2 linked regions of the Homo sapiens genome follow. The protein of the gene in region 1 interacts with the protein of each later gene in a pairwise test. Each region holds a gene or a part of one and is shown in the gene's direction. Other genes may lie near its edges. The genes, in order: RCCD1 and KDM8.

Region 1 (10,996 bases):
CACTGCACTCCTGCCTGGGCAACACAGCAAGACCCTCTCTAAAATAAATGGATGAATGAACGAGATTCTGGGCTTTCTTGTGGTGAGAGACATCGGCATGGCTCCTCCCTCCATGGGGCTTAAGACTGGGCCTGCAGGGGTCATGCAGTGTTCCTGGGAGCTGGTGGTTTGGGGGTTTGGGGACTACCTGGCCCTCCATGAGCCTGTTGTGGCTGTGCACCCTGTGGAAGCTGGTCTTCCTCCCTGGGGCACTCAGTCCTGGATTTCTCCATCCCATAAGGATTTGGCTGTGGCTGAAGCACCTGTCCTCTCCCCACATGCCTCTCAACTCCACCTGCAGAGGGCTTCTTTGTGCGACATGGAAGGAAACAGAGCCATTCTCAGTGTGGCCTGGGAAGGGGTGGGGCCCACGACTGTCCAGCGGCCAGCGCATCAGTGTCTGCAGATGCTGTGTCATGCGGCCACCCCAGTAGCTGATTTTCTTGCCACATGCTCTAGGTGGTGGTCTGGAGGGAGAGGGTGCTGATTTGTCTGTGTAGCTTCCAGGGGGCCATGGCAGAGTGCCAGGGAGGGAGTCCAAGCCAGGTGTGGAGGAGCTCAGCTCCTGCCTCCTTCCCCAGAGGCCAACTGGTCTTGCCCTCTTCCTCCAGGGACTCTGTAAGCTCGGTTCGGCTGGAGGGACTGACTTCAGCATGAAGCAGTTTGCTGAAGGCTCCACTCTCAAACTGGCTAAGCAGTGTCGAAAGTGAGTCATCTGGCCTTGCTGTGGTTCCCCACCTGTGGGGTAGATCTCAAGACACAGGGGTCTGGGTGGGGGTTGGGGCCTCCTCCGTCCTGCTCTCTGGCTCAGGCAGGGGCTGCAGTCTGGATCCTGGTACGTGAACTGCTTCTGTACATTGAGGGGATGCCCAAACCCTTGGTTTTTCCCCCTTGGCCTTGGTGTACCCCTCCGTACCCCCAATCCTGAGGGTCGTCCACTATCCTGCGTGTCCCCAGGTGGCTGTGCAATGACCAGATCGACGCAGGCACTCGGCGCTGGGCAGTGGAGGGCCTGGCTTACCTGACCTTTGATGCCGACGTGAAGGAAGAGTTTGTGGAGGATGCGGCTGCTCTGAAAGCTCTGTTCCAGCTCAGCAGGGTAGCTCTGTGGTTCCTGCCGTCAGCCTGGGGACACTGTCTAGGATTAGACCTTACCAGGCTTTCTCGGCAGGGCTTGGCCAATGGGGTCTTTTGACCCCAGGGAAGAGGGCTGGTGGCTGAGTGGCTGCTCTGTGTAGTGTGGGCATGTTGGCCAGCACCAGTGGTGTTAGCAAGGACGTTCTTCTTGGAGGAGCTGGGGAGGTCAAGTTTGTAAGCTCCCAAAGTCTGGGGCCTGGGAGTTTCCCGAATTCATCCTGTACCCAAGGGTCCCAGCTGAGGGTGGAATTGGGGGCCTGGGCCTGGGCAGCATTTATCTGAGTACTGCTCTGCCCCGGGATGCCCATGTGAATTCCTCTGTGTCCTGGCAGTTGGAGGAGAGGTCAGTGCTCTTTGCGGTGGCCTCAGCGCTGGTGAACTGCACCAACAGCTATGACTACGAGGAGCCCGACCCCAAGATGGTGGAGCTGGCCAAGTATGCCAAGCAGCATGTGCCCGAGCAGCACCCCAAGGTGAGGGGCCGCCAGAGGGGCTAGAGGGTTCCCCACCATGGGGACAGCTAACCCAGGGCATCCACAGCAGAACAACCTCCCTTTTTTTTTTTTTTTTTTTTTGAGATGGAGTCTCACTGTCTCCCAGGCTGGAGTGCAGTGATGCGATCTCGGCTCACTGCAAGCTCCGCCTCCCGGGTTCATGCCATTCTCCTGCCTCAGCCTCCCGAGTAGCTGGGACTACAGGTGCCCGCCACCATGCCTGGCTAATTTTTTGTATTTTTAGTGGAGACAGTGTTTCACCGTGTTAGCCAGGATGATCTCGATCTCCTGACCTCGTGATCCGCCTGCCTCAGCCTCCCAAAGTGCTGGGATTACAGGTGTGAGCCACCGTGCCCAGCCAACAGCCTCCCTTTTAAGCCAGTTTGTTTCCTTTTGTCTGGCTGTTTTATTTCCCAGTTCCTCAATTACTGCTGTGAGAAGGGTCCCCCTTTCTCTGTGAGTCAGCCTAGGCCCCTCTCCTAAGCTGCCTCCTCCCCCAGGACAAGCCAAGCTTCGTGCGGGCTCGGGTGAAGAAGCTGCTGGCAGCGGGTGTGGTGTCGGCCATGGTGTGCATGGTGAAGACGGAGAGCCCTGTGCTGACCAGTTCCTGCAGAGAGCTGCTCTCCAGGTGAGCCAGCCTTGGTAGGAGCCAACCTTTCCCAACTCCTGAGCCTCAGGGCTGCAGATGTGGCTCCAGAGGGTGCAGGTTCCAGTGCTGTGGGCCTCTTAGAGCGACGGGGGCTGCCTGCGTGGCTGCCGTCTTTGCTGAGCCTAGGAGTGCAGCGTCTGCCTGCCAGAGTCCCAGAGCTGCCTGCCCACCACCGCCTTCTCCCCACAGGGTCTTCTTGGCTTTAGTGGAAGAGGTAGAGGACCGAGGCACTGTGGTTGCCCAGGGAGGCGGCAGGGTAAGCTGGTTTACACACCCCTTCCTGATGGCTGAGCCATCAGCCTATAAAACATGACTCAGCAGCTGCCACGCCAGAGCTGGGTGTTAGATATGGAACAGAAAAACATTAATGGCCAGAGGAACACCGTCCCGCTGAGAGAGTGACGCGGAAGCAGGCAAGCTCCTTGGCCCCTCCACACTGGTGCCTGTGAAGGTCCTAGGCTCTACTGTTCCTTTGTCTCATTTACCCCCATGGCCCTGGTGCTCAGCACAATCCATGTCCAGCCCTTATTAGGTGTTTCAGGAAGTGTTTGGATGCAGAGGGTCTGCACAGGGAGTCAAGCCTGGGGAGAGGGAGGAAGGTGAGGGTGGCACGGTCAGGGCTGGGGAGCCCGATGGTCGGGGTCTTACTCCCAGGGATGTCCTGAGCAGTGACGGGCTTGTTCCTACAGGCGCTGATCCCGCTGGCCCTGGAAGGCACGGACGTGGGGCAGACAAAGGCAGCCCAGGCCCTTGCCAAGCTCACCATCACCTCCAACCCGGAGATGACCTTCCCTGGCGAGCGGGTACGTGTCTTCCTGCCCCGGCCTTTCCACTCCCTCTGTCCCTGATGGCCTGTGGGCTGGGCTGTAGCTCCCCTTTGGGACCAGCAGGAAGTTTCAGCTTTGTCAAGGCCTGGGGCAGGGAGGACAGCCTGAGACAGCAGTACTCTCTTGGGGGTGGGCTTCTCCCTGCAGGGTTGGTGGGGCTTGTGGGGGCTGCGGCAAGTACCCCTGACAGGTGGGGTGCACATTGCAGATCTATGAGGTGGTCCGGCCCCTCGTCTCCCTGTTGCACCTCAACTGCTCAGGCCTGCAGAACTTCGAGGCGCTCATGGCCCTAACAAACCTGGCTGGGATCAGCGAGAGGCTCCGGTAAGGTCCCTTGGGATTGCGGGGCCTGGACCAGGCATCGGGATTCGGAATATCCCCCACAGCAGTTTACACATTGGGAAACACTCCTTGGTCATGGGCTTCTGTGAGCCTCACAGTGACTGCTCCGCATCATTAGAGAGGAGGCGACAGGCCAAGAGGCAGCACGGCACGGCAGACTCTAGAGTCAGACTGCCTCGCTTCCCTGATTGCAAATGGGCAACCTCAAGCAAGTTACTTAACTGCTCTGTCTCAGTTTCTCCCTCTGTGAAATGGGATGATTATAGTACCTACCTCATGGCATAGTGATGAGGAGAATAAAATGAGAAAATACACCTAAAAGTACTTACTACATGGGTACCTGGCCCCTAGCATTGTGCCATATCAGTATATTTTAGTTTTTTTTTTTCTTTGAGACGGAGTCTTGCTCTGTCACCCAGCCTAGAGGGCAGTGGCATGATCTCAGCTCACCGCAACCTCTGCCTCCCAGGTTCAAGCGATTCTCCTGCCTCAGCCTCCTGAGTAGCTGGGATTATAGGCACGTGCTACCGCGCCTGGCTAATTTTTGTATTTTTGTAGAGATGGCGCTTTACCATGTTGGTCAGGCTGGTCTAGATCTCCTGACCTCGTGATCCGCCCACCTCAGCCTCCCAAAGTGCTGGGATTACAGGTGTGAGCCACTGCAGCTGGCCAGCATGTTTTAGTTTTATTACTAACTGTGACTTTGAACATATTACTCATTACTTAGCCCGTTTCCTATTCTGCAAAACAGTAGTGATGATGATCACACTTGCACCTTTAGTATAGGGCCATGGTGAGAATTAAGTAAGATGATCCAGGTGCCTGGTCAGGGTAAATACTCAAATGAGGCCGGGCGTGGTGGCTCACACCTGTAATCCTGGCAATTTGGGAGGATGAGGCAGGAGGATCACTGGAGCCCAGAAGTTCAGGCCAGCCTGAGCAGTGTAGCAATACCTCGTCCCTATTTAAAAAAGAAATTAAAGAGAATATCAGGAAGAATAGCTAATGCATGCTGGGCTTAATACCTGGGTGATGGGATGATCTGTGCGGTAAACCACAACGGCACATGGTTACCTGTGTAACAAACCTGCACGTCCTGCACATGTACCCCTGAACTTAACAGTTGGAAAAAAAATTTGCAAGGTGTGGTGGCGTGCACCTGTAGTCCCAGCTACTCGAGAGGCTGAGGCAGGAGGATCACTTGAGCCTGGGGGGGTCAAGGCTACAGCAGTGAGCTGTGATCATGCCACTTTACTCCAGCCTAGGTGACAGAGTGAGATCCTGCCTCAAAAAAACACAGAAACAAAAACCCTCAAATGTTAGGTGTTAGCCTCACCATCACGACCACCCTGGTCTTCTACATCCTAATTTTGAGCATTTCCCACAATCCTATGCTATTTCCTAGGCCTGGTTAGAAGGCTAAGAAGCACTGTAGTTCATACCTGGTGCAAGAGGGTCCTTGGACATTGCCAAGGGAAATCCTCAGCCCAGGACTTGATTGCATGAGGGTGTGGGTGCAGGGGTGGAGCAGATGTAGAAACTCTGATGATGCTGCCGGTGTTAGTCTGTTCTTGCATTGCTGTAAAGGAATACCTGAGACTGGGTAATTTATAAAGAAAAGAGATTTAATTGCTTCCTGGCTCTACAGGCTGTGTAAGCATGGCATTGGCATTTGCTCAGCTTCTGGGGAGGCCTCAGAGAGCTTTTACTCATAGTAGAAGGCAAAGCAGGAGCAGGCACATCACATGGTGAAAGTAGGAGCAAGAGACAGTCGGGGGAGGTGCCACACACTTTTTTTTTTTTTGAAATGGAGTCTCCCTCTGTTGCCCAGGCTGGAGTGCAGTGGCGCAATCTTGGCTCACTGCAACCTTCACCTCCTGGGTTCAATCGCTTCTCCTGCCTCAGCCTCCCTGAGTAGCTGGGACTACAGGCGCGCACCAGCATACCCAGCTAATTTTTTTTTGTCTTTTTAGTAGAGACAAGGTTTCACCATGTTGGCCAGGCTGGTCTCGAACTCTTGACCTCAAGTCATCTGCCTGCCTCGGCCTTCCAGAGTGCTGGGATTACAGGCGTGAGCCTCCACGCCCGGCCGAGATGCCACGCACTTTTAAATAACCAGATCTCACGAGAACTTACTATCACGAGGATAGCACCAAGCCATGAGGGACCCATCCCATGACCCAGTCACCTCCCACCAGGCCCTACCTCCAACATTGGGGATTATAGTTCAACATGAGGGTTAGAAGGGAAAACATCCAAACCGTATCCCTGCTGCTTCCTCCTGTGGCCCTGCAGGCAGAAGATCCTGAAGGAGAAGGCTGTGCCCATGATAGAAGGCTACATGTTTGAGGAGCATGAGATGATCCGCCGGGCAGCCACGGAGTGCATGTGTAACTTGGCCATGAGCAAGGAGGTGAGGGTTGGTCTGGGTGCTCATGACAGGCGGGGATGCAGAGGTACCTGTGCCCTGGCTGGGCTTTACACCCAACTGACTTGGTCCACTCCTCACATCTGGCCACAGGTGCAGGACCTCTTCGAAGCCCAGGGCAATGACCGACTGAAGCTGCTGGTGCTGTACAGTGGAGAGGATGATGAGCTGCTACAGCGGGCAGCTGCCGGGGGCTTGGCCATGCTTACCTCCATGCGGCCCACGCTCTGCAGCCGCATTCCCCAAGTGGTCAGTGCCTCTTCTCAGTGGGGGAGGAGGGACGGACCAGGAACTCCCAGCAGCAGCTGAAGGGGGCAGTCCTAGGGTGTGTGGGTGTGTCCCTTGCCAAGGTTGAGCCTGTTGCCCAGGGGTCATATCTACCCTGTTTTTCTCACAGACCACACACTGGCTGGAGATCCTGCAGGCCCTGCTTCTGAGCTCCAACCAGGAGCTGCAGCACCGGGGTGCTGTGGTGGTGCTGAACATGGTGGAGGCCTCGAGGGAGATTGCCAGCACCCTGATGGAGAGTGAGATGATGGAGATCTTGTCAGTGCTAGCTAAGGGTGACCACAGCCCTGTCACAAGGGCTGCTGCAGCCTGCCTGGACAAAGCAGTGGAATATGGGCTTATCCAACCCAACCAAGATGGAGAGTGAGGGGGTTGTCCCTGGGCCCAAGGCTCATGCACACGCTACCTATTGTGGCACGGAGAGTAAGGACGGAAGCAGCTTTGGCTGGTGGTGGCTGGCATGCCCAATACTCTTGCCCATCCTCGCTTGCTGCCCTAGGATGTCCTCTGTTCTGAGTCAGCGGCCACGTTCAGTCACACAGCCCTGCTTGGCCAGCACTGCCTGCAGCCTCACTCAGAGGGGCCCTTTTTCTGTACTACTGTAGTCAGCTGGGAATGGGGAAGGTGCATCCCAACACAGCCTGTGGATCCTGGGGCATCTGGAAGGGCGCACACATCAGCAGCCTCACCAGCTGTGAGCCTGCTATCAGGCCTGCCCCTCCAATAAAAGTGTGTAGAACTCCACTGTGTGCCCTGTCCTTGGGCAGGGAGGGCTGCTGTGAGTGGGAGTCTCTGAGTGGGTGAGTGTGGGTGAGTATGGGTGTGAGCTGGGCGTGGGTGAGTGTGCAACGGAGCTTCACAGTGGCAGACCCACCTCCATGGAAGGAATCCAATGGATTCCCCAACCAGGGCCCACTGAGTTGCTTCTTAATCCTACTGGAGGGACAAAGGGTAAGCCTAGGAAGCTAATCAATAAGAAACTCACCAGGTGCGGTGCCTCAAGCTTGTAATCCCAGCGCTTTGGGAGGCTGAGGCAGGTGGATCACTTGAAGTCAGGGGTTCGAGACCAGCCTGGGCAACAAGCAAAACTCTTTCTCTATAAAAATACCAAAAAAAAAAAAAAAAAAAAAAAAAGAGCAGAGTGTGGCGGCATGCACCTGTAATCCCAGCTACTCGGTAGGCGAAGGTTGCAGTGAGCCCAGAGCGCAGCCTCCCAAAGTGTCGCCTGGGCGACACAGCGAGACCCTATCTCAAAAAATATTAAACTATCCCAAGAAATAAGTCGTTTAGGGTAGAGACTCCCATATGCTGGGCCTTCAGTACGTTTGTCTTTATATTGGGAGTCCTCTGTGGCCTCCGCTGAGGGCGCTGGGGCGGGGGTTGGGGTTGGTGGCCAGCTGAGCCTGGTTGAAGGGCGGCTTGGGCCCCGCCCACCACCCCAGCACGTTCGAGGAGGGCTAAGCCCAGCGTGAGGCTCGTTGGCTCGACAGAGGCACGTGACGGGTCCTGAGCCAATCCGTGGAAGGTAAAAGCTGCTTCCTGTTGGGGCATGAGTCCGGCGCGTGTCGGGTTTTGAGCTGCCGCGGTCCCGGGACTGAGGTGGGTGGCGGGGTCCGCCCGTCTTGGGCGTCACTCCTCGCCAAACCTTTAGCTCAAGTCTTAATGAATGTCCTCTCTGTGGTTCTAATCCGAGCTCCAGCCCCACGGGTTCCTGCAGGGGCGGGACCACCTGGCCCAACCTCTGCCTTGGTCCAACGCCCCCGGTTTCCTCCAGGGCCTTGGTCCAACGCCCCTCGGAGGTTTCAGCCCATTTCACAGACCGGGCCGCAGGGCCCCGGCGTAGGCCTCGGGACCGGAGAGGCCCTCAAGGGGAGTTGAACAGGGCTGCGGCCGCCGCGCCCCGGGCGGCGACGTCACCGCCCTTGCTGGTGATTGGCCGCCTCGCGCCGCGCGCCCTTCAAACCTTTTCTCCCCGTGGCTGTCGGCGCCCGCTGGGCGGGAGGCCTTTCCGGAGGCGGCCGCTCTGCGCCTCGGCGTTTCCTCCAAGGCTGCCCACCAGAAGGACCTGCCCGAGAGGGTAGAGGGCATAGGGTCAAGATCAAGGTCAGAGGCCCCCTTGGGTTGGGAGAGGACACGGAAGGGGTTAGGAGCCCAGGAACTGGGGTCTCAGGAGAGACCCAGGATCTGACTTAAGAGGCCTGAAAATGCCCATGCAATTCTGCTTCAGCCCGGGTGCAGCGGCTCACGCCTGTAATCCCAACGCTTTGGGAGGCCGAGGCGGGCGGATCACTCGAGCCCAGGAATTTGAGACCAGCCTGGGCAGCATAGCGAGACCCCTGTCTCTATTATATTAAAAAAAAAAAAAAACAAACCCGCTCCAGCCGAATCTGCTTGAAGTTGGCGTTGCTGTTGTAACCACCAGACTGTTTGTCTCCCCATTTAACGGTTAGCTCCTTGGGAGCAGACAGCTGTCCTCACTGGCAGAGGAGGAGCGCTCAGTAAATGCTCGCTGGACGAATAAATGGCTAGATAAGGTACAGTTGAAATTCTGTCTGTATAAGTTTCTCAAAACCAGTAAGATGTCCAGGGATAATTTTTTTGTCAACACTAAATACTGGATTCAGTAAGCTAATACTGTGTGTTTATCATGGCATGTACTCGCACCAAACCCTTTATTTGCATTTATTACAATTCTGTGAGGAAGGTTCAAACAGCACCGCCCCCACCTCCCTTTGTAAACTGAAGAAACGCAGTTGGACTCAGGTGGATTGGCTGCGGTCCCAAGGCCCCGCTGAGTTGCAGAGGCACTGCCTCCCAAACGCTCTTCTGCGTTCCGCTGTGGGGAGAGGGGCAGAGCACTGTGTGTGGAGTTGGTGGGACCTGATTTCAGCGCTCTGCCCCTCTCTGTCTGGCTGTATGAGTGTGTAAGGGTTACTTTGTCTCAGAATCTCCTCTGTAAAACGACCATTTTGGTTCCCAAGATTACATGGGATAAAGTGCCAGATGCTGGGAAGCTGCGGGACGGGGTGGGGGTGTCGGGGGCGCTCGGATCCTAGTCCAATGCCTAAAGGACAGGCCACTTCGTACCCACTTTGTGGCACGCTGAGCTTGAGCCAAAAGGGAGGACAGGGAAAGTGCCTCTAAATATTTGAGCATCTTTGTAAATCCGGTAGGGCATTAGTCAGGGCGCCTGCTCAGCGAACCTTCGTGGCACGGACTCTGCCTTTGTGGTCGGGAGAATGATAGTTTCTCCATTTTACAGATAAGGCAGCTCCAGCCCCTGGAAGGCCAGAGACTTGCCAGTGTCCCACTAGCGGGCTCTTCGCAAGAATCCCCCCGGGCCCGCCGCAGCCAGGCGGCGGCCGGCAGAGGGCGCTGCTCGGGCATGGCGGAGGAGCGGCCGGGGGCCTGGTTCGGCTTCGGTTTCTGCGGCTTCGGGCAGGAGCTGGGCTCCGGACGCGGGCGCCAGGTGCACAGCCCCAGTCCGCTGCGGGCGGGCGTCGACATCTGCCGCGTGAGCGCGAGCTGGAGCTACACCGCTTTCGTGACCCGTGAGCACTCCCCGCCCCGTCCCCACTTATTCCAGCCGCGCTCCCCAGTCGCCTCCCCGCACCGCTGTGGCCAGTCCAGTTTGTCTCCCCCGTTCAGGCCGCCAGCCCCACATTCTGGGTTGGTCCCCAATTCGACCCCTTCCCAGGAACACCCCGCTCCCCCCATCCCCGCCGCCTCCATTCTGGCCACCCTGCTCCAATCCGCCCCGCAGGTGGAGGCCGCTTGGAGCTGTCGGGCTCAGCCAGCGGCGCGGCGGGCCGCTGCAAGGACGCGTGGGCCTCGGAGGGGCTCCTCGCGGTGCTGCGCGCCGGGCCGGGGCCGGAGGCGTTACTGCAGGTCTGGGCGGCCGAATCGGCGCTGCGTGGGGAGCCATTGTGGGCCCAGAATGTGGTGCCCGAGGCCGAAGGGGAAGACGATCCGGCCGGTGAGGCCCAGGCTGGGAGGCTACCCCTGCTGCCCTGCGCCCGTGCCTACGTGAGCCCGCGGGCGCCCTTCTACCGGCCTCTGGCTCCGGAGCTGCGGGCACGCCAGCTGGAGCTGGGCGCCGAGCACGCGTTGCTGCTGGACGCTGCTGGCCAGGTGTTCTCCTGGGGCGGGGGCAGGTGAGCGGAGGCGGGGGCAGGTGAGGGCTGCTGATTGGAGAAGCAAGCGGAGCGGGACCCCTTAATGCGACTGTAGCTGACGACGGTCTCCCTTGCTCAGGCATGGACAGCTGGGCCATGGGACCCTGGAGGCAGAGCTGGAGCCACGGCTGTTGGAGGCGTTGCAGGGCCTAGTCATGGCTGAGGTGGCCGCGGGGGGCTGGCATTCTGTGTGTGTGAGTGGTGAGTGACTTAGTGCTTCTCCAGACGAGCTCATGATCTTGTGCAAACCTTCCTCCTCGTTTTCCAGTTTGGGTGGGGGCCTACCCAGGCCTCCTTCCAAATTCATCCATCCATCGCCCAGTCAGTTATGACTCCTAAATGCCTCTCACCCTCGGCCTCCTCTGCCTGCACCATGGCCCACTCACGCCTGGACTCTGGCATTTGTTCCTAGCTTCTCTGTTACTGGTCTCACTGCCCCTCCCCTCCTCTCCCCACCTGCTCCCAGCCAGGACTGTCTCTTAACAGTGCTGCCGAGGGAGTATGGAGTGTGAGGGGGCAGCTGAGCCAAGGAAAACGCAGAAACGCTGCAGTTGCCTAGGGGGCCATGATGTGTGGCACAGGGTGGACACTGGGGTGCCCACCAGGCACCAGGATGG
Region 2 (11,832 bases), on another chromosome or scaffold:
TCATTCATGTGAGTGCCCAGCTCCTGGGCTGGGAAGACTCCTTATGAGGGAGTGCCAGGCTCCTGAGTGCTCCAGCAAACGAACAGAAGCTGCATCGCTGTCTATGACCCAGCCTCAGAAAACCCATAGTGTCACCTCTGCCATACCCTACTCAAGCCTGCCACTCAAAGGGAGGAGCATCAAAGCATTTGCAATCATTTTTTAAAACTGCCACACCCTTCTTTACCTTTGATCTGAACCTGTGACATGTGCCTGTGGTTCTCCACATGTCACCTAACATGACACACTCCTCACAGTTATTGCTATTTATTATTTCTTTTTTTTTAGAGTCAGGGTCTTGCTCTGTTGCCCTGGCTGGAGTGCAGTGGCATGATCATAGCCCACTGCTCACTGCAGCCTCCCTTGAAGTTCAGGGCTCAAGCAATCCTCCCACCTCAGCCACTCGAGTAGCTAGAACTACAGGCATGCGCCACCACGCCCAGCTAATTTTTTTTTTTTTTTAGACGGAGTTTCGCTCTTGTTGCCCAGGCTGGAGTGCAATGGTGCCATCTCCGCTCACTGCAGACTCTGCCTCCTGGGTTCAGCAATTCTCTTGCCTCAGCCTCCCGAGTAGCTGGGATTACAGGCATACGCCATCACGCCTGGCTAATTTTGTATTTTTAGTAGACACGGGGTTTCTCCTTGTTGGTCAGGCTGGTCTCGAACTCCCAACCTCAGTTGATCTGCCTGCCTCGGCTTCCCAAAGTGCTGAGATTACAGGTGTGAGCCACTGTGCCTGGCCGAATTTTTGTTAGAGACAGGGTTTCACCATGTTAGCCAGGCTGGTCTCAAACTCCCGACCTCAAGTGATCCACCTGCCTCGGCCTCCCAAAGTGCTGGGATTACAGGCATGTGCTATCATGTCTGGCTTTTTAAAATTTCTTTGTAGAGATAGGGTCTTGCTATGTTGCCCAGGCTGTTCTCGAAATCCCAGCCTCAAGCAATCCTCCTACTTCAGCCTCCCACAGTGCTGAAATAACAGGTGTGAGCTGCTGCACCCAGTGTATTTATTAATATTACATCTTTAATTGTCTAGGACTGTGAGTTCCTAAAATCTAACTCAGATCATGTCACTCTTCTGTTCAAAACCCTCCAAGGGCTTCCCATTTCACCCATAACAAAAGCCTAAATCCTAACGACATCCGGTAAAGCCCTACAAGAGTTACCCCCAAGTTATCTCTCTGACGTCATCAGCTTCTACTCCCCAGCTTTTGCTCCCCACCACCAACCACGATGACCTCTGTGCTCCTTCTTTAGATGCCCAGCACACCTGCTGTTCCCTGTGCCTGGAACTGTCTTCCCACACATGGCCCCATATGACTTACTCTCTCACCTCCTTCAGGTTGCAGCTCAGGTGTCACCTTATCAGAGAGGATTTGAGCACTCCATGCAAACCAGCAGCCCTCACCACACACACATATAGCACCATTGTCCCCCTTCCCCTGCTTGAGTCATAATATATATAACAATGCACATAATTTTCTAATTTCCTGTTTCCCGCCACTAGAACATGGGCAGGGATTTGTGTGTTTGTCCACTGCAAAAATCGCACCAAAATTTGACATCATCCTTCATCCATACCCAAGCCTTCTGACATGTGACTTAAAGCCTCTCCCATCAAGTAATAGATTCTCTGTCAGCTGCCGTAACTCATTCCTGTAATCCCGGCACTTTGGGAGACTGAGGCAGGGGGACCACTTGAAGCCAGGAGTTTGAGACCAGCCTGGGTAACATAGTCTGGGTAACACTTCTCCAGGCATCGGCTACATTTCCAAAAATGTGGGTGCCATCTCCCTCTGTGTTTTCTGGAAAGCTAGTGAAAATGCAAAACCCTGGCCAGGCTGCTGGCTGGTAGCTGGACCTGACTCCAGAACTACTGAATCGAAATATCCAGAAGCAGTACCCAAGAACCTATATTTTAAGAATTTCCACACTGCCCACAGGGGTCCTTGGACACAGAACCGGAAGGGCAGCCTGTGCCATTACCAGCAGGTGAGTGGAGGGTTGGAATAAATAGATTCTGGGACAGAGGGAAGAACAGAGAGTGTAGCTTGAGACATTTAACTGCCTTATCTAACCATCACTACCTCCTGGGGAGGTCGGTTATCATACTGTGAAAGGAAAATAAATCTCAGGATCCCAAAATCACTAAGCCAAAGGGAAAAGTCAAGCTGGGAACGGCTTAGGGCAAACCTGCCTCCTATTCCATTCCTAAAGAAGATGGCTAGTAAGATAAAAAAGCTACATACCTCCTCACAATTTGTCCACAAGGGATTTTCTTATGGACTCAGGACAGACAGAACTCACAGTCACCCCTCCGCTCACTGAGAGAAATGCATATCTGATGGATTCCTTTGGAAAGGCTAATCAGAAACTCAAAAGAATGCAACAATTTGTCACTTATCCACCTATGACCTGGAAGCCCCTTCCCTCCTTCGAGTTGTCCTGCCTTTCCAGACCAAACCAATGTACATCTCACACATATTGATTGATGTCTCATGTCTCCCTAGAATGGATAAAACTAAGCTGTGCCCCAACCACCTTCGGCACATGTCATCAGGACCTCCTGAGGCTGTGTCACAGGCCCGTCCTTAACTTTGGCAAAATAAACTTCCTAAATCGACTGAGACCTGTCTCGGCTATTTAGGGTTCACAATACCTATTTCATGAAGACGACATAGAAGTTAAGAAGAAATCACTTATGCAGATAGCCTTTTACCCTTGTAAAAGGCCTTTCTTTTTCATGAAAAGCAGCCCCAAATCATTTTCTAACAAAGAGCAGCCTGTAAAGTTGAGCTGCAGATATAGACAAGCAAGCTGGGAGCTTGCATGGGTGAATGAGGGCAGGAACTAACAACTAGACATTTTCAAGATGGTGGCTCCATCTTCCCTTCTCTGCCAGCCACATGTACTGTAAGAAGCAGACAAGATGGCGCTGATCAACTGGAAAGCCCATTTGCATAATAAGATTAGGGTGAGGTGACTAGCCTTCTGCACGCACTATGTAAACGTCACACTTGATCTAACCAATCTATGAGCCCCATGTAAATCAGACACCGCCTCCTCAAACTGGACTATAAAATTTGCGCATTTGCTGCCAACCAGTCTTTCCCACTGAGACACCCCTTCCTCGATAGAGGAAGCTGTTTCTCTTTCTCTCCTCTTCTACCTATTAAACCTCCGCTCCTAACCTCCTCATGTGTGTCCATGTCCTAAATTTTCCTGGCTGCAACAATGAACCCCAGGGTATATATCCCAGACAACATAGCCACTTCAGAGGTGGACACTGAGGCTCAGACAGAAAGTATCCCGGTCTGCCTTACTTTATGTTGGGGGCTATTTGCTTGTACCCCAGGGGAACCCACTCAACAAAACACCTGGTATTTTGCTCTGAGTCTTCACGCAAGGTCATTTTAGGCTTGCTAGCTCCCGGCTGAAGGTCACATGCTGAAATGAAATTGAAAGCACAGAATAACTAAGTGAGCAGACCCTCCACCTGGAAAATCCAGGTGGCATCAGTGGAAGAGCCAAGACATGGGAGGTTTTCATGTCTATTTTTAAGCAATTGAAGTAAATTAAATGTCTCTTTCATGGCCAAGCTACACGTTGTTTGCAAGTTTGGAGCTTTGTTTGTATGTATATATTTTAAATAAATTTGATAATTAAGTCACGAATGCTCCCAGCACACTTGGATATATTTAAATTACAGGCTTCTGATCAAATGGAGAAAAATCACAAATATGGGCCTAAATGATGCCTTTTTCTGTTCAGTGGCTTTTGCAGCATTCAAATGGGTCTGTCAGCTTAATGGCCAATTCTAAGGCTGCTGGGAATGACAGGAGGTGGAGGGACTGGCAAAGAGACTACAGGAAGTGAAACCCTGTGGTGAAAAATTGTGGTTCTTTTAAGAAAACATTTCATCTGCGCCTGTAATTCATTTCAACAAGCCAGTTTTGAAAACACAAACAAGCTGGTAAAAGGGGTGTTTGTCTCTGCCTGACTGGCAGCACTCCATACCCACCATTAACAGCCAGTTCCTGAACACTGTGGCTTCTGGAATCAGGGGGTCCCAGGTCAAATCTCCTTTGGTCCTTGCTGTGGTGCCTGTCTGGGCAAGTTGGAGATTCTAGTGCCCGCCCTACTGTAGTCTCTGTAGAGTAACTGCCCATCCACTGTCAAAACAAATTCAGATCTAGTAAAGAGTGGCTTTTCCCATCCCTATGTCCTGAATGGTATTGCCTAGGTTTTCTTCTACAGCTTCTATGGTTTTAGGTCTTATGTTTAAGTCTTTAATCCATCTTGAATTAATTTTTGTATAAGGTGTAAGGTAGAGATCCAGTTTCAGCTTTCTGCATATGGCTAGCCAGTTTTCGCAGCACGATTTATTAAATAGGGAATCCTTTCCCCATTGCTTGTTTTTGTCAGGTGTGTCAAAGATCAGATAGTTGTAGATGTGTGGTGTTATTTCTGAGGCCTCTGTTCTGTTCCATTGGTCTATATATCTGTTTTGGTACCAGTACCATGCTGTTTTGGTTACTATAGCCTTGTAGTACAGTTTGAAGTCAGGTAGCATGATGCCTCCAGCTTTGTTCTTTTTGCTTAGGATTGTCTTGGCTATGCAGGCTCTTTTTTGGTTCCACATGAAGTTTAAAGTAGTTTTTTCCAATTCTGTGAAGAAAGTCAGTGGTGGCTTGATGGGGATAGCATTGAATCTATAAATTACTTTGGGCAGTATGGCCATTTTCATGATATTGATTCTTCCTATCCATGAGCATGGAATGTTCTTGCATTTGTTTGTGTCCTCTTTTATTTCCTTGAGCAGTGGTTTGTAGTTCTCCTTGAAGAGGTCCTTCACATCCCTTGTAAGTTGGATTCCTAGGTATTTTATTGAATGGGAGTTCACTCATGATTTGACTCTCGGTTTGTCTGGTATTGGTGTATAGGAATGCTTGTGATTTTTGTACATTCTACTATAAAGACACATGCACACGTATGTTTTTTGCAGCACTGTTCACAATAGCAACCAACCCAAATGCCCATCAATGATAGACTGGATAAAGAAAATGTGGCACATATGCACCATGGAATACTATGCAGCCATAAAAAAGGATGAGTTCATGTCCTTTGCAAGGACATGGATGAAAATGGAAACCATCATTCTCAGCAAAGTAACACAAGAAGAGAAAACCAAACACCACATGTCCTCAATCATAAGTGAGAGTTGAACAATGAGAACACGTAGACACAGGGAGGGGAACATCACACACTAGGGCCTGGCAGGGGGTGGGGTCCTGGGGGAGGGATGGCATTAGGAGAAATACCTAAGGCAAATGACAAGTTGATGGGTGTAGCAAACCAACATGGCACATGTATACGTATGTAACAAACCTGCACGCTGTGCACATGTAAACCAAAACTTAAAGTATAATTTTAAAAAAATAAAAAAGAAAAATCCTATTTGAAGGAAACAAAAAAGAGTGGCTTTATTTGAAAGGATTATTGCAAGGTGCAGGAGGGACTTTTTTTTCTTTTTTTTTTGAGACGGAGTCTCGCTCTGTCATCCAGGCTGGAGTGCGGTGTCTCGGCCCACTGCAAGCTCCGCCTCCCAGGTTCACACCATTCTCCTGCCTCAGCCTCCCGAGTAGCTGGGACTACAGGTGCCCGTGACCACACCCGGGTAATTTTTTGTATTTTTAGTAGAGACGGGGTTTCACTGTGTTAGCCAGGATGGTCTCAATCTCCTGACCTCGTGATCCGCCCGCCTCGGCCTCCCAAAGTGCTGGGATTACAGGTGTGAGCCACCACGCCTGGCCAGGAGGGACTATTATAACAGGGGAAGGGAGACTTGCAAAAGAGAGTACACTGTGGCCACAAGGGTTAGGCCAAAAAGAGCTTTTCTTTCATAGGAAGAAGAAAACAAGGCTAGAAAGAACCTGGAAGTGGGGTGAAAGGGTGACATGATGGGTTAGTAGATCAGAGAATATATCAACCTGAGGCCAGCCTATTCTGAGGAGGGGCTGTCTGCTGGCCCAGGCCCAGGGTGAGCCAAAGTTCAGGGGCCTGGAGGAAGGAAAGAATCTTAACCAAAGTGGTTGACCAGCGTTTTATAAGGATTGATTAGTGGGACAAGCAGTTCAGGTAATCACTTATAAGACAATGAATGAGAATTGGAGGGTCTGTGTCCTGTTTACCTGCTCTCACAGGTAAACAATGGGGGTGGTGTCTTGGAGTCTTATCTAAATTCTCTTGTGGGGGTGGGGGGTGATTCTTTGCAGTAAACTTTTTTCCACAACACAAAAGGGTGAGAGCAATTCCTTTTTACTTTTTTCCGGGGACACAAGACTCAGGGAAAATTCAACATTGTCACTACTCAAGGGTGGAAACTTAGTGTAGCACATAACCATGAGGATTCTAAACCTGTGGCTGCTGAGTTCAAACACCAGCATCCCAGTGAGCCTGGTGGGTTAGGAGATCTTTCTGTGCTTTACTTGCTCCCTCCCTGATATGGTTTGGCTGTGTCCCCACCCAAATCTCATCTTGAATTGTAGCTCCCATAATTCCGTGTTGCGGAAGGGCCCAGTAGGAGATAACTGAATGATAGGGGAGGTTCCCCTCATACTGTTCTCCTGGTAGTGAATATGACTCATGAGATCTGATGGTTTTATAAGCGGTTTCCCTTTTCACTTGGTTCTCATTATCTCGTCTTCCACCATGTAAAACGTGCCTTTCACCTTCCACCATGATTTTGAGGCCTCCCCAGCCATGTGGAACTGTGAATCCATTAAACCTTTTTGTTTGTAAATTGCCCAGTCTCGGGTATGTCTTTATCAGCAGCATGAAAGCGGACTAATACACTCCCTAAAATGGGGATGAGCATGATCATTACAATAGCTACGATCCTCATATTTTTAAAGTATTTTAGCACCGTACCTAGAATCCACTAATCTATGAACTGATCCTGAGCAAGCCTGTTTCCTACTCAGACCCCAAGCTCAGTACGAACATAACTTTCCATGCCTCTGTGCAATGCTGCAAAAGGCGTGCATACTTGGAGTCCACAGGAGTGTGTGCTCAAAACACAAAAGTCCCAGTGACCACGCACCACTCGGCATCAAAGCAAAGGTGGCAGGAGTGTGTCCCCTGGCCACTTGCCTTCTCACTCGAACAGACTGTGGATGCAGCACTTGCTCGTGGGTAATTGTGGATCTGACTTTCCAAAAGTACAAGTATGTGGCCACTTTAATCACTGAGCCTCAGTTTCGCTCTCTGTAAAATAGGGAGAACTAATAATCCTAGCTGCAGAGATTAAATGGTGGATGCAAACAGCCTTGTACGAAGTTGTTATCTGTGCAGAGGAAAAAGCGGTATCACTAGCGTGGAAGGACCCAGAGGATACAGCCAAGCCTTTCTGTCTTCTCCATCCCCCGGCCTTTTAAACAGCAGTGGGGCGGGGCCACGGCATCGATCACTCGGCGCTCCTCCAGGCACTGCGTCGTGATCAGACGAGCGGTGAGCGATCGATACTCCTATGCTAGCCTCTGGCTCCTCAGGGGACACAGCCGAGTGGTCGGACCAAACGCAACGAGTCTTCGCCAGCCCAAAGGCGACTCGACACCGTCCCAGCTGAAGAGAGGTTAGTCTGAGCAACTCGAGAGCGGAGTCAGCTCCAGTTCCTCAGAAGTGGAGAGGCCGGGTTCAGAGGCATAGACCGCGCAGGCGTCATGTGAAGCAGCCAAGCCCGGCCTCGCGCGTGCGCCTTGGAAAACCCCGAGGGTGGCTCGAGTTGCCGCATGCGCTCTGAGAATGCAATTTAGCTCGTCGCCGGCCTGCCCTGCGGGAGGATAAAGGGAAAGGTTCCGCGCGTGCGTATGCTCGTCTCTTGGCAGTGGTTTTGCGCATGCGTGAGGGCAGGCCCTTACGGCGGGCTGCTGTGCGCTTTAGCGGTTCTTGGCGTCGCGTTGGTGTAGGCCTAGTGCGCCTGCGCGGGTTTTATACTCTGCTATATGTGTGTCCGCTGCTTTTAGGCAACCAGCCGCTGCCCCTGGGCCGCAAGGCAGGCTGGAAACGATTCCGCCGTCAGGTCCCAAATATGAGCCGCGAGAAATGCAGCCCCGGGGAAGGCGCTGAGGAGGGAAGGGGGTCTGAGGCCTCGGGGCTCAAGGCCAGTGCGGGGTACGGGGGACCCTCTGGGGCCTGGGTGTGTGACTGCCCTAAGGAAAGGTGCTTGTAGCTCGGTAGGACTTAACGATGGGCATCGGTGCGTTTCCCGGCAACGGTAGGAATCGCCGTGCTCAGGAGGACTCGGGAGCAAGCCCGGGGACAGGAGGTGCGCAGGCGTTGGGGCCACACGGACGACCCAAACACAAGACTGTGTGCCCCTTAGAGAGCCAAAGGGATCCCTGTGCCATGAATTAAAGCTTTCTGGAAAATGTTCCAAACTTTCCTGGGAAGTTTTACGAAGCTCTTGTTTTTGCACAATTTTTGTGGAATACTGCCATAATAACATTGAGGAGATTAGAGAACTGGACCGCCTGTTCCCAGAAAGCTAGGTGTAGGCTGATCTGTCCTGGAAGCCCCTTTTGGGAGGCTTTCTCATGACCAGCATGGTGCTTGCAGAGTGCCCACCCTGAGACCCTCTGCAAATCACAGTGAGGCTCTCGGAGAGGCCATTCCACCCAGCCACCTTAAAGAATACTCAGGGAGGTGCTTTAGAGGAGTTGATGTTTAAAAATAATTTAAGGCTGGGCGCGGTGCCTCACACCTGTAATCCCAGCCCTTTGGGAGGCCGAGACAGGCCGATCACTTCAGGTCAGGAGTTCACAAGACCAGCCTGACCAACATGGCGCAACCCCGTCTCTACTAAAAATAAAAAATTAGCTGAGTGTGGTGGTGCACATCTGTAATCACAGCTGCTTGGGCGGCTGAGGCAGGAGAATTGCTTGAACCTGGGAAGCGGAGGTTGCAGTGAGCCAAGATTGGGCCAGTGCACTCCAGCCTGGGTGACAGAGCGAGACTCCGTCTCAAAAAAAATAATAAAAATAATTTGAGAGAATCCTAGGATGACAGGGCAGTGGCTTCCAAGAGGGATATATCCCATAACCTACCAGGGACCTACTTTGCCAGTTTGCATAGTGAATTCTGCCTGGATGGTGAATTTATAAAGTCCAGGCCTGAGTCTATTCCGGCTGTTTTATACAGGTTATACTTGGCTCCTTTTTGTTTAGTACGACCAACAAGAAGGCTTTTATAAGATTCATTTTAGTCTTATTTATAAATCCAGGAGAAAAACCACTCAGAGGTTAGCACATAACAGCCTATATTCTGACCTTCTTTGCAAGATCATTTCATACACCAGCAGACAAGACTTTATGTAAGGAGCATTTAGGGGCTGAATCAAGTCCACTCAAAAGCTGTTTTATGCAACCCACACTTGATCTCCCCCTGAAAGCTGTTCCAGGTTATGAGGCCAGTTCACAAAGCCAGGACATAAGCCCACTCAAGCTGTTTCTATACCTGACCGCCCCCCTCCCCACAAAAATAAATAAAGCCTTCTCTGGGCCGGGCGTGGCGGCTCACACCTGTAATCTGAGCACTTTGGGAAGCCAAGCAGATCACCCTGAGGTCAGGAGTTCAAAACCAGCCTGGGCAACAGAGTGAAACCCCGTCTCTACTAAAAATAGAAAAACTAGCCAGGCACAGTGGCGGGCACCTGTAATCCCAGCTACTCAGAAGGCAGAGGCAGGAGAATTGCTTGAACTTGAGAGGCAGAGGTTGCAGTGAGGCGGGATCGCACCATTGCACTCCAGCCTGAGTGACAGAAAGACTCTGTCTCAAAAAAAATAAAAATAAAAAAACCTTCTGTGATCAACAAGAGGTCTTTGAAGGCCAATACCTGTTGAGCTCTGGGAGACTGATTTGTAAAGTGAAGATACGAGGCCACTCAGGCTTTTTGATATGGCCCACATTTGGGTTACGGTAGGTGTCAGTTTGCCTAGAATAACACCAGTTTTTTACTGATGCAGACATAAATATTAATAGCATCTTGGTTTGGATGACCCACCTATACCTGGCCACTAGAAGGCTATCTGTACAACTCCCAATAAACCCTTTTATGTAGAGCTCTCGAAGGCCAGTCTGTGGCACCACTCTCAAAGACTGCTTCACACATCTTTTTTCTTCTTGCAGGGAACTGGCAAGTCACACATCTTATTCTTGACTCCCTCCTTTGGAAGCCTGTTTGTTTAATGTAAGCCTTTTGTGTGCGTGTGCTTTTTTTTTTTTTCGGGAGGGACAGACTCTTGCTCTGTCACCCAAGCTGGAGTGCAGTGGCTAGATCTCAGCTCACCCCAACCTCTGCCTCCCAGGTTCAAGCAATTCTCCTACCTCAGCCTCCCGAGTAGCTGGGATTATAGGCGTGGACCACCACGCTGGCTAATTTTTGTATTTTTATTAGAGATGGGTTTTCACCATGTTGGCCAGGCTGGTCTCGAGCTCCTGACCTCAGGTCATCCACCCTCCTCAGCCTCCCAAAGTGCTAGGATGACAGGCGTGAGCGATGCACGTGGCCTTAATATAAGACTTTATAAACAGCAATTCAGTGAGGAGTTCTGGGAAGCCAATCAATAAAGCCAGGCCATAAGGCTACTCTGGCTAGTCCTTTCCTCTAGAAAACCTCTTGATACAACAAGAAGCCTTTTTATCAGACCAGTATATGGGAAATGCCAGAAGGCTGATGAGCCTGGACCTGAGGCCATTCAGAAAGGCAGTGACCTGTGGCTCGCACCTGACCTTCCCAGGAGGGCCATCTCAAGTGGTTGGTGGTGTGAAGGCTGCTTCTCATAGCCCATGAGGCCAGTGACCCTGGAAGATTGTTTCATACAGCCAGCAAGAGAGTGTTTCCCCAGCCAGACCAAGACTCCTTCTGTAAGGCCATTTTGCATGGCTAACAGGAGCCAATGTGAGGCTGCTCCCAGCGGGGTAGATGGACACAACAAACAATTCTTTCCTGGCACAATGAAGAAACCACAGATCGATTTGTAAAACTAAGACAAAATCTGACTTCACCTGGTCCTCAGACAAGCCCCCATCTATAGGAAGGCCAGTTTTTAAAACAAGTTACAAGGGCCGGGCGTGGTGGCTCACACCTGTAATCCCGGCACTTTAGGAGGCTGAGGTGGGTGGATCACTTGTGGTCAGGAGTTGGAGACCAGCCTGGCCAACATGGCGAAACCCCGTCTCTACTAAAAATACAAAAATTAGTCGGGCGTGATGGCATGCGTGCCTGTGGTCCCAGCTACTCAGAGGCTGAGGCAGGAGAATCACTTGAACCTGGGAGGTGGAGTTTGCAGTGAGCCGAGATCGCATCACTGCACTCCAGACTGGGTGACAGAGCAAGACTCCATCTCACAAAACTGCTTTGGAAGACTGCTTCCTATACCAGGATGTGGCTGTTTGATATGGTAACTACATAAAAGGCCAAATCATGAGAGGTTTGGGGAAGCCTATGCAACAAGGCAGAAGACTGATGCGGCCAGAATGCCACTTCACCATGCTGCCAACATAAGGCCTTGTAGGAGGCTATAGTTTTATTTTTTGAAACAGGGTCTCACTCTGTCACCCAGATGGGAGTGCAGAGGCACAAACACAGTTCACTTGCAGCCTTAAACTCCTGAGCTCAAGCAATCTTCCTGCTTCAGCTCCCGGAGTAGCTGGGGCTACAGGTGTGTGCCACCATGACCAGCTAACTAATTTTTTAATTGTTTTTAGAGACAGGGTCTTTACATGTTGCCCAGG

The links.
Region 2: the proteins of RCCD1 (region 1) and KDM8 interact in binary tests that used the Homo sapiens proteins (3 or more experiments, as listed by UniProt).

What each region holds. Positions count from the first base shown.
Region 1 is NC_000015.10:90,947,146-90,958,141, forward strand, and holds the start of RCCD1 (RCC1 domain-containing protein 1), read left to right. Parts: upstream 1-7,738; 5' UTR 7,739-7,803; exon of another isoform or gene 7,804-8,738; intron 8,739-9,466; 5' UTR 9,467-9,589; coding exon 9,590-9,755; intron 9,756-9,967; coding exon 9,968-10,358; intron 10,359-10,458; coding exon 10,459-10,580; intron 10,581-10,996. Other genes in the region: UNC45A (protein unc-45 homolog A), read left to right, coding at 651-745, 997-1,138, 1,509-1,649, 2,171-2,298, 2,509-2,575, 3,009-3,122, 3,355-3,470, 5,784-5,901 and 2 more. UniProt on the Homo sapiens protein: Plays a role in transcriptional repression of satellite repeats, possibly by regulating H3K36 methylation levels in centromeric regions together with KDM8.
Region 2 is NC_000016.10:27,195,965-27,207,796, forward strand, and holds the start of KDM8 (bifunctional peptidase and arginyl-hydroxylase JMJD5), read left to right. Parts: upstream 1-7,561; 5' UTR 7,562-7,672; intron 7,673-8,010; exon of another isoform or gene 8,011-8,128; coding exon of another isoform or gene 8,129-8,211; intron 8,212-11,832. UniProt on the Homo sapiens protein: Bifunctional enzyme that acts both as an endopeptidase and 2-oxoglutarate-dependent monooxygenase.